Linked DNA regions of Homo sapiens. The protein of the gene in region 1 purifies or fractionates together with the protein of each later gene. This does not show direct contact. Each region holds a gene or a part of one and is shown in the gene's direction. Other genes may lie near its edges.

The links. Proteins that work in one complex are often made in the same cells at the same time.
Region 2: the proteins of GRAMD1B (region 1) and TRAPPC9 purify together in Homo sapiens (affinity purification with mass spectrometry; 2 studies listed by BioGRID and IntAct, with this or other methods). This does not show direct contact.

Annotation. Positions count from the first base shown.
Region 1 is NC_000011.10:123,603,205-123,608,580, forward strand, and holds part of GRAMD1B (protein Aster-B), read left to right. Parts: intron 1-221; coding exon 222-337; intron 338-2,117; coding exon 2,118-2,274; intron 2,275-3,404; coding exon 3,405-3,594; intron 3,595-5,376. UniProt on the Homo sapiens protein: Cholesterol transporter that mediates non-vesicular transport of cholesterol from the plasma membrane (PM) to the endoplasmic reticulum (ER).
Region 2 is NC_000008.11:140,437,245-140,440,744, reverse strand, and holds part of TRAPPC9 (trafficking protein particle complex subunit 9), read left to right. Parts: intron 1-1,547; coding exon 1,548-1,693; intron 1,694-3,500. UniProt on the Homo sapiens protein: Functions as an activator of NF-kappa-B through increased phosphorylation of the IKK complex. May function in neuronal cells differentiation. May play a role in vesicular transport from endoplasmic reticulum to Golgi.

The DNA of each region.
Region 1 (5,376 bases):
AAGGCCAGTTCCTGGCTTTGTTAAAGTCCACATTCCTAGGCAGAAGACTGGTGTCCTGCTGAGACCCCCAAGGCAGATGGGGGTGGTGGCTCGCCTCTCATTCAGCTAAGGAGAGAGGAGTTTCTCCTCTTCTCCAGGGGAACCAGCCCGGCTCAGTGCCTCTGTGCAGAGTCGGGGGACCTGAGGGAGCAAGGCTCAGTCGTTCCTTTTCTCCCCTGAAGCCTCTGTGTCCCAAGGAGCTCTGGCACTTTGTTCACCAGTGCTATGGGAACGAATTGGGCCTGACCAGTGATGACGAGGACTACGTGCCCCCTGACGACGACTTCAACACAATGGGGTGAGTGAGGCCAAGGGCGGCTGCCCAGAGGCAGCCGTGCGAGTGCCTGCAGGAAGAACCTGCCAGGCAGAGGGAACAGCACACATGCCTGTGCAGCCATGGAATGAACTGTGGAATGAAGGAGGGAAAGTGGTCACAGGTGAGGTCAGGGAGCTCGAGGGGGCAGAGCCTAAGGGCCTGGCCATCTTTATGGTTGGCTTTTACTGAGAGTGGGATGGGAAAGTTTGGCAAAGATAATTGCTAAGGTCTGATTTAACATTTCAGCAGGATCACTCTGGTCTTTGCACTGAAAATACATTAAAGGGGAACCAGGGCAGAGGCAGGGAAACCCGTGAAGAGGCTGGTGAGTAATTTAGATAGTTAGATGAGGGATGGTGGTTGTTTGGAGAAGTGGCAATAAGTGTTTAGTTCCTGAATAGATTTTGAAGGATATGTTGATGGAACAGAAAGGAACCAAAGGTGGCTTTCAGATTTTTTCGGTTTTACTGCCCAGAAGGATGGCATTGTTCCAAACGGAGATGGACAGTACTGTAGGCAAAGCAGGTTTCAGGGGAAAGATCAGGAGGGTAGTTTTAGGCAAGTTGAAATTGAGATGCCTGTTAGCTAAATGGAGATGCCAAGTGGGCATTTAGATATGGAGTGTGGAGTGCACAGGGAAGCCTGGGCTGAGGCCATAAACGCAGCAATTATTAGTGGATAGTCATGAGACTAGCTGAAATTTCAAGTGACTCGGTGAACCTAAAAAGGAGTTCAAGGACTGCCTGGGAGCACTCAGTGAGGGAAAGAAGCAGCTGAAGAGAGCTTGAAAGCACATGCAGTGAGGGAGGAAGGCCCTAGGAAGGTTTCCTATCCTGGCAGCCACGGGAAGGAAGTGAAGCAGAAGGTATTGTCACTGTATCACATGCTGTCGATAGGTTAAGCAAGATGGGAAGATGTGCCTGTAGACTGGCACAAAGCATGCTTGAGGGTGGAAGGGTAGCTAGCTGCAAGCTTGGTGGTCGTGCAAGAGGCATACAGGGAAAAAAGCAAGAAAAGAACATTGAATGTCTGTTGTGCTTAGGTCTGGGCTCAGTCGAAATAATAGTGTTGTCGCTTAACCTCTATGAATACCCATTTGGTTATCTCCAAAATGCACATAAGGATTTCCGGAGAGTTGTCAAGCATCTGGATTTGTTAAGTACAGGTCAGATGATGGTGATGATGATAGGCTGATGATTGCTCCCTTAGAGGAGGCTACAGCGGCATCCCTGAAGTGTTCCTCGACGAGCACCCACCTTCATCTCAAGGAGGTTTTCTTTCTAGGTGTATAATGCAGGGAAGTTTTCTAGTTATCATCAAGAATTTGGGCAATGCCACTTAAGGAGCGCTCATGTCCAGAGTCCTGTCTTCGTCACCGTTTGGGAAAGGAAATGCATGCTCAGAACCCAGATATTTGATTCAGAGGCTTCAAATAGGATGGGCACCCATGGAAAAAAAATAGCTTAAGACAAATAATCCTTTCAGTTAGGTAGGGATAACTCTAAGGAGGCTGCCTAGGAAAGGTGAGTTTGCAGCCAGGAATTTTACATGGGGGGCAGGGAGGGGTGGGGTGGGATATGAAGGAGATTTCAGAAGAGCAATGGGGTAGGCAGGGGATTTTTGGTTAGAGGAAGATCATACACAAAGCAAAGAAGCAGGAAATCTCATAGATATGGATGGATAGAAAGGTCTGAGATTCTTAGAATAGTTGGCCATCTTGAACCACTGAGGGTAATGTGGACTCACTGGTGTCTCCTCTCAGATACTGTGAAGAGATCCCTGTGGAAGAGAATGAAGTGAATGACAGCTCATCCAAGAGCAGCATAGAGACCAAGCCAGATGCCAGTCCACAGCTGCCCAAGAAATCCATCACCAACAGCACACTAACATCCACAGGGAGCAGTGAGGCCCCCGTCTCGGTATGGGCAGTCAGCCTTTGACTTCTACCCCCAGTCCTGTGGCCAGCGTTTCCTAGCATAGTTCACTGGGAACCCAATCTGGGGAGCAGGTAGAGAGGAGATTGGTTACATTGTTGTCAGTTTCTTCAAGGAGGCATTCTGGAGCAGATGGGCTCTCCGTATTCTAGTGGCATAGCCCGGGGTCCAGAGCTGGGGCTAGGTGCCTGGGGTACAAGACTGGGTTTGACTTCTGAGCAGATGAAAACCATTTCAAGCCCACTGTGCTGGGCTGCTGCTGATCAGCCCTTCTGGTAGAGAACAATTCCAGGTATTTTTTCACTGCCTTGATCTGACGTCAAAGTCATGCATGAATATAGAACTATAGAACAATTAATTGTTTATCCACTCATTTGGTTGATATTTGTTGAGTATACGTATTGTGGCTTATTTCTCCACTGTGGTAGACTTTATGGAAGCCATAAAAATGTGTAAGAGAACCTCTGTCCTGTGGGACTCTGTTAATAGAGGAGGTAGAACCTTGATGAGGAAAGAGGGTCAGGGCATGTGCTGGCAGGCAGAAGAACAGGTAGGGTTCTTCAGGAAAGGACTCCCTCAAAGAGCCTTGTATTTCAGTAGGCTATGGATCAGACCACCTGCCTTCAGAATGAAAACATTATTCATTGGATACCTGGTCTTTATTTTCCATCTCTGAGGTTATCTTTAAAATGTAAAGAGTTGTATCGATTCCCTTCCAGGGCTAATGAGAGAATGAGTTTTAAAAAATGCTTATGAAGCCTTTCGAGCTTCTTAGGATAAACAGGTACTACCTGGAGGCAGGCTGACCTTGTTGCAGGATGGTGCAGGTGCGGCTCCAGGAAAGGGCCTGGGCCTGTGGGGACCAGCTCTGTGCATTTGGGGAGCTTGTTGTGCTGTTGGAATGGCGAGCGTGAGAAGTGCAGTAGTCCTTGTACTGTGTTTGCCCATCCTCTGTGGCAGCTCTGGGGAAGGGCTTTGGAGCCTGACTCTGACTTCGCTCCTGAGCAGCTGAGCTGGGAGTATGAGAGCTGCCAAGGCTGCATCCCTAATCTCCCTTTGGAGAATAGATCCAGACCAGGTTTCCCTGGTGGGTGACTCCTCTGTCTTGGCTCCAGTTTGATGGGCTGCCCCTGGAGGAAGAGGCGCTGGAGGGAGACGGGTCCCTGGAAAAGGAGCTCGCCATTGACAACATCATGGGGGAGAAGATTGAGATGATCGCTCCTGTGAACTCCCCTTCACTGGACTTCAATGACAATGAGGACATCCCCACTGAGCTCAGTGACTCTTCCGACACACACGATGAAGGTGGGCATTTGAAAATGGGTCTGGAGTGGCCCTTGCTCTGTTTTGAAGGCTAAAAGGAGATCTCTATGTGGGGACTGTAGTTAGTCTCTAGGTTCCTGGTGGAGAGATGGGAGCAGAGCTTCCTTAACAAAAGGTACCTGTTATTAGTTTACATCCCTGTTTTCAGTCATTTGCTGTAGGAGCCTCCCATAGATAATGCTTTGTTCTGTCATTTAGTCTTGTCACTAAATGTTCCCCCTATTGACATTGGCTTGCCTTGCGACCCTGACCCTCACAGACACGCAAGTCTAGGCAATGTTTATAAGCCACAAGGAAGGTGCCAGTCAGCTGCTCCCTGGAAATAATTAGATTTTAACAGAAACGTCCTCAAGATAGCTGCGAAACTTGTTAATGCAATTTTTGCTGCATGGGGTATTTAGGCCCAGCTAGAAGAAAAGGTGTTGCTGGGTCAAATAGGGTTTGGAGACTCCCTTGTTTCTCTAATTTTTGTAAGCAGGTAGCTTCTAACTTCATGCCTGCATAGGATTAGCTTCTAGAACCTCCCTTGGGAACATGCTGCTGCTTACCTTCCATGGAGAGAAGCCAAATTCTCAGCATTCATGAAATCAATTGATGGATTTCCTCCATTGAGTGAGTGGTCTGTTATGACTGGTGAGCATATGAGCACGGTGCTCACTTGTGGATCTGTGGACACCTCTCCCAGGGGCCACCTGCAGTGGTTTTCTAACTTTTGGTTGGTTTACCCACCCCCATCTAGAGTCCAGGGTTGGCACAAGTGACTGCATGGGTTAGATACTGCCTAACTCCAGGGTGCCTTTCACATAAACTAAGGTGTGAATACCCGCTGCGCTGCACTTGTGCAGTACCCATCTGTGCAGTCATAGGACTTGACCCCTACAGGGTACTTCAGAGTTCTCTGGTTTCCTCAGGGTCCTAGGGGTGCCAGAAATGGCAGCCTCCTCCTGAGATCACATACCCACCCATGCAGGTGCAGTAATTAGGGACTGAGGGGTGCCAAGGGTTCGGGGGGGAGCACTGAGGCTTTAGCAGCTCTCCTGTATCCTCATTTGCATCCTCCTGTAGCAGCTGGAAAATTCAGATTACAGGTGAAATTCCCTGGCTGGCAATCTTCTGTATATGGACACAGTGATGTGCCAGAAGGGCTTTGCATCCCTGAGACTGAAGGAAGCTCCATTTTTGGAGCCCTCCCACACCTTGCTCTGTGTGCCTCTCATTCTGATTTGAATTCTTATTTTGCTATATGATGAAGCTGTAATCCTAAGTTTAAAAAGGGGAGTAGGTATTGACATCATGGTAGAAATAGGCTGTCTTATGGAACTGTAGTTAGGGATCACAGCCTATTGGACCAGCCCCAGCCTTAGCAGCAGTTCTGTACACTGATTCTTCCAGATTAGTCTACGTTCCCTCGAACAGACCTATGCCATGGGTTACAACTACAATTTGTTGTCGATTAGAGTTAACTTACAGACTCTCAAAACCCCATTCTTTGGGTTTAGGCAACTTCCAGAAGTAGTCATTTATTTGAATTTTAGTCTAAGATCAACTGAATTAGGGAGGTTTGAAAGTGTAAAAGCAAATCGTACATTCCCAAACACTTTGTAAAGAAGGAATGGGTAGTGTCAGCTAAAGGAAATGGTGTGCATCCCAGCAAAAGAAAGAGACCGAAAGCAAAGTCATAAACCATGCCCACGAGCTCAGCTGTCCTGCTCCGTGTCCTCTCCATACCCTTGTTGACTGTGCTCATATTAGCCAGAGACCTAA
Region 2 (3,500 bases), on another chromosome or scaffold:
CTATGGACTGCATGCCTCTCCCTACGACTGAATTGAGCATCCTGTGAAAGGTTTGCAGTGGGGGAGGGACACAGACTGATTTGTGCTTTGGGAAGGACACTCTGGCTGTGTGTGTATAGAAGCAATGAAGGGGAAGGGGGTGCAGGGTGAGGAGTCAGAGACTAGGCGGAGGCTGCTGAGGTGACTGCTGTTGGGATGGGAAGAGCAGCTCAGATGCCTTTCTTTTCTTTTCTTTTTTTTTTGGGAGTCTCACCCTGTCCCCCAGGCTGGAGTGCAGTGGCATGATCTCGGCTCACTGCAACCTCCGCCTCCCGGGTTCAAGTGATTCTCCTGCCTCAGCCTCCTGAGTAGCTGGGACTACAGGCGCGTGCCACCACGCCCGGCTAATTTTTTGTATTTTTAGTAGAGATGGGGTTTCACCGTGTTAGCCAGGATGGTCTCGATCTCCTGACCTTGTGATCCGCCCGCCTCGGTCTCCCAAAGTGCTGGGATTACAGGCGTGAGCCACTGCACCCTGCTAGATGCTGTATTTTCTTATGGGGAGGGTCTGTTAGCAGGGGCCATCCTGACACTGCCTTGTGGCCAGGAAGGAGACAAACGAAGGCTGGCGTTTCTTTTTCTTTCTGCGTCTGCCTTACGTTGTGATCTTTGTTTAAAACTTATTCAGAATGGAAATGCTAAATTCCAGAGTAACAAAGAGTTTGTTGAACTCGTTAGAGTTACACATGATAGGATTTAACATTGTATTGAGATGTGTCAATAACATTCATTTACTTAGAAACGTCACATCTTCTGGATTTCCAGAGGAGTTTTATTCTTGATAAGTTTGCTTTCTTGATGAGGGAAAGTTTAATCCAGCTGCAGTTTTTCTTTAAAAAAAAAATCATCTATCTTAAGAAATATAACATTTAAAGGTTAGATGTATTTAAAAATGATAAAAGGAATACTTTGGTACAGTTTCTTTGGTTTCTGAGTTGATTAGGGACTCAGAAGCCTTTGCATTATTTAGTGGTATATCCTTGCCAATATTTAAAGAGCTGTTAGTGAGCACCCCAGGCCCTGCTCTCTGGAAGCTTTCCTAAAGCTTGCCCTGAAATAGCGAGGATGAACGTCTTGTTTGCTAAAGCCAAATGGTTGGCTAATAAGACTCAGCATAGCTGTCTTTATAAAATAATAAGAGGTTTGATGTTAAGAAGTGGAAGATAATTGATTTTTTTAAAAAGCTGAAACATAAACTTCCTTATGCTAATGTTACAACTGGAAAATCTAAAAAGAAAAATCCAACTGTAACATTGCCTACGTGAAAGACATGGTAGAAGTCCTTACGTACCGATCACCTTTAAACAAATTGCTTGGCAGTACATTTTTGAAATTAAGACCACTCCAGCTCACATAACTGGCAATGATTATTGCTGACTTAAAATTATAGAGCCTACAGTTGCCTTCTTAGCATTTTTAGTAGTGAGAGAATTGAATAGTGCTTAGTCAGAGTGCTTTCTGGGTGGGAGTTGTATAGTAATAAAGATACATTTTCATGTATTTTCTAGACATTACAAGAAGCGGTGCCAAGGCCGCATGCGGAAGCACGTGGGGGACCTGTGCCTGCAGGCAGGGATGCTGCAGGACTCCCTGGTGCATTACCACATGTCGGTGGAGCTGCTGCGTTCTGTGAATGACTTTCTGTGGCTTGGAGGTAAGATGAGCTGATGAAGATGATCTGATATGTAATTGTTTCAACTGTTAATTAAAATGAGAGGCTGGGTGCGGTGGCTCACGCCTGTAATCCCAGCACTTTGGGAGGCTACGGCAGGCCAAATATGAGGTCAAGAGATTGAGACCATCCTGGCCAACATGGTGAAACCACGTCTCTACTAAAAATACAAAAATTAGCTGGGCGTGGTGGCACGCGCCTATAGTCCCAGCTACTCGGGAGGCGGAGGCAGCAGAATTTCTTGAACCAGGAGGCAGAAGTTGCAGTGAGCAGAGGTTGCACAACTGCACTCCAGCCTGGCAACAGAGCGAGACTCCATCTCAAAAAAAAATAAAATAAAATAAAAAAAGAAATGAGAGGAAACGGCAGAAGAAATTCCCCAAAAAGAAGGGATGAGGGAGGAAAAGCAGCCAGCCTGTGCTGGTTGCCACGAGCAGTGGCCTGGGATGCTTCCCTGCTGTATCTGCTGCCCTCCTCCCACCCTGCCATGCGTCCTCTGAAGGAGGCCCTGCCCACACTTTCCCTTTTCCTCTGTTCTTAGTATACCTTGCCCTCTGCTTTGGATGCCGTTCCCCATGATCTTCACCTCTTAGACTCCTCCCTCAAAACCTCCTCCATGTGTCACATGATGAATGGATAAACGAAATGTGGTATGGGCATACAGCGGAATATTATTCAGCCATGAAAAGGAGTGAAATTGTGATACCACTGCAGCACGGATGAACCTTGACAACTTTGTGCTAAGTGAGAGAAGGCAGGCATGAAAAAGGCCGCAGATTGTATGATTCTATATATATGAAGTGGCTAGAATAGGCAAATCTATAGAAGCAGAAAGTAGACAACTGGTTCTAGGGGCTGGGAGGAGGGGGAATGGGAAGTGACAGTTAACGGGCATAAGGTTTCTTTCTGGGGTGATGAAAATGTTCCAGAGTCAGTTAGTGGTGATGGTTGCACAGTTGTGAATATACTAAAAACTGCTGACTTGCACACTTTAAGTGGGTGAATTATATGGTATGTGAACTCTATGTCAATCTTAAAAATTAAAAGAAAGGGAAGAAGAAATCCTACTTCAAAGCACAGCCATCTCTGATCCCCCGCAGCAGTCGGCAGAGCGGGTGCCCTGCCTGAGATGTTGCTGACACTTCGTGGTGGAATCGGATGTCTGTGTGTGGTCTTCCCTTTGGGGACTGCGCCTCCTGGAGGTGGTCCTGGGAGGATGGACTGGCTGAGTCCATTGTGTGGGTAAGGACTAAAACAGGGTTCTTTCGTTGAGGTTGACAGTTTAGCAAGGACACCTGTCAGCCACTTATGATAATACAAGTCGGAATGAAGTAATGAGGTGAGTTCTGTAACAGAAGTTTAACGAGGTGCCGTAGAACATATTAAATATAACAAATTCTTTCGTTCTTGGGGACGGAGTCTCGCTCTGTTGCCCAGGCTGGAGTGCAGTGGCATGATCTTGGCTCACTGCAATCTCCGCCTCCTGGGTTCAAGCGATTCTCCTGCCTCAGCCTTCCGAGTAGCTGGGACTTACAGGCATGCACTACCACACCCGGCTAAATTTTCTATTTTTAGTAGAGACGGGGTTTTGCGATGTTGGCCGAGCTGCTCTTGAACTCGACCTCAGCTGATATGCCTGCCTTGGCCTCCCAGAGTGCTGGGATTACAGGCATAAGCCACTGTGCCCAGCCAAATATAAGAAATACTTCAAACGGCCAGGCATGGTGGCTCATGCCTGTAATCCCAACACTTCTACAAAAAATAAAAAATAAAAAAATCTTACTTCACC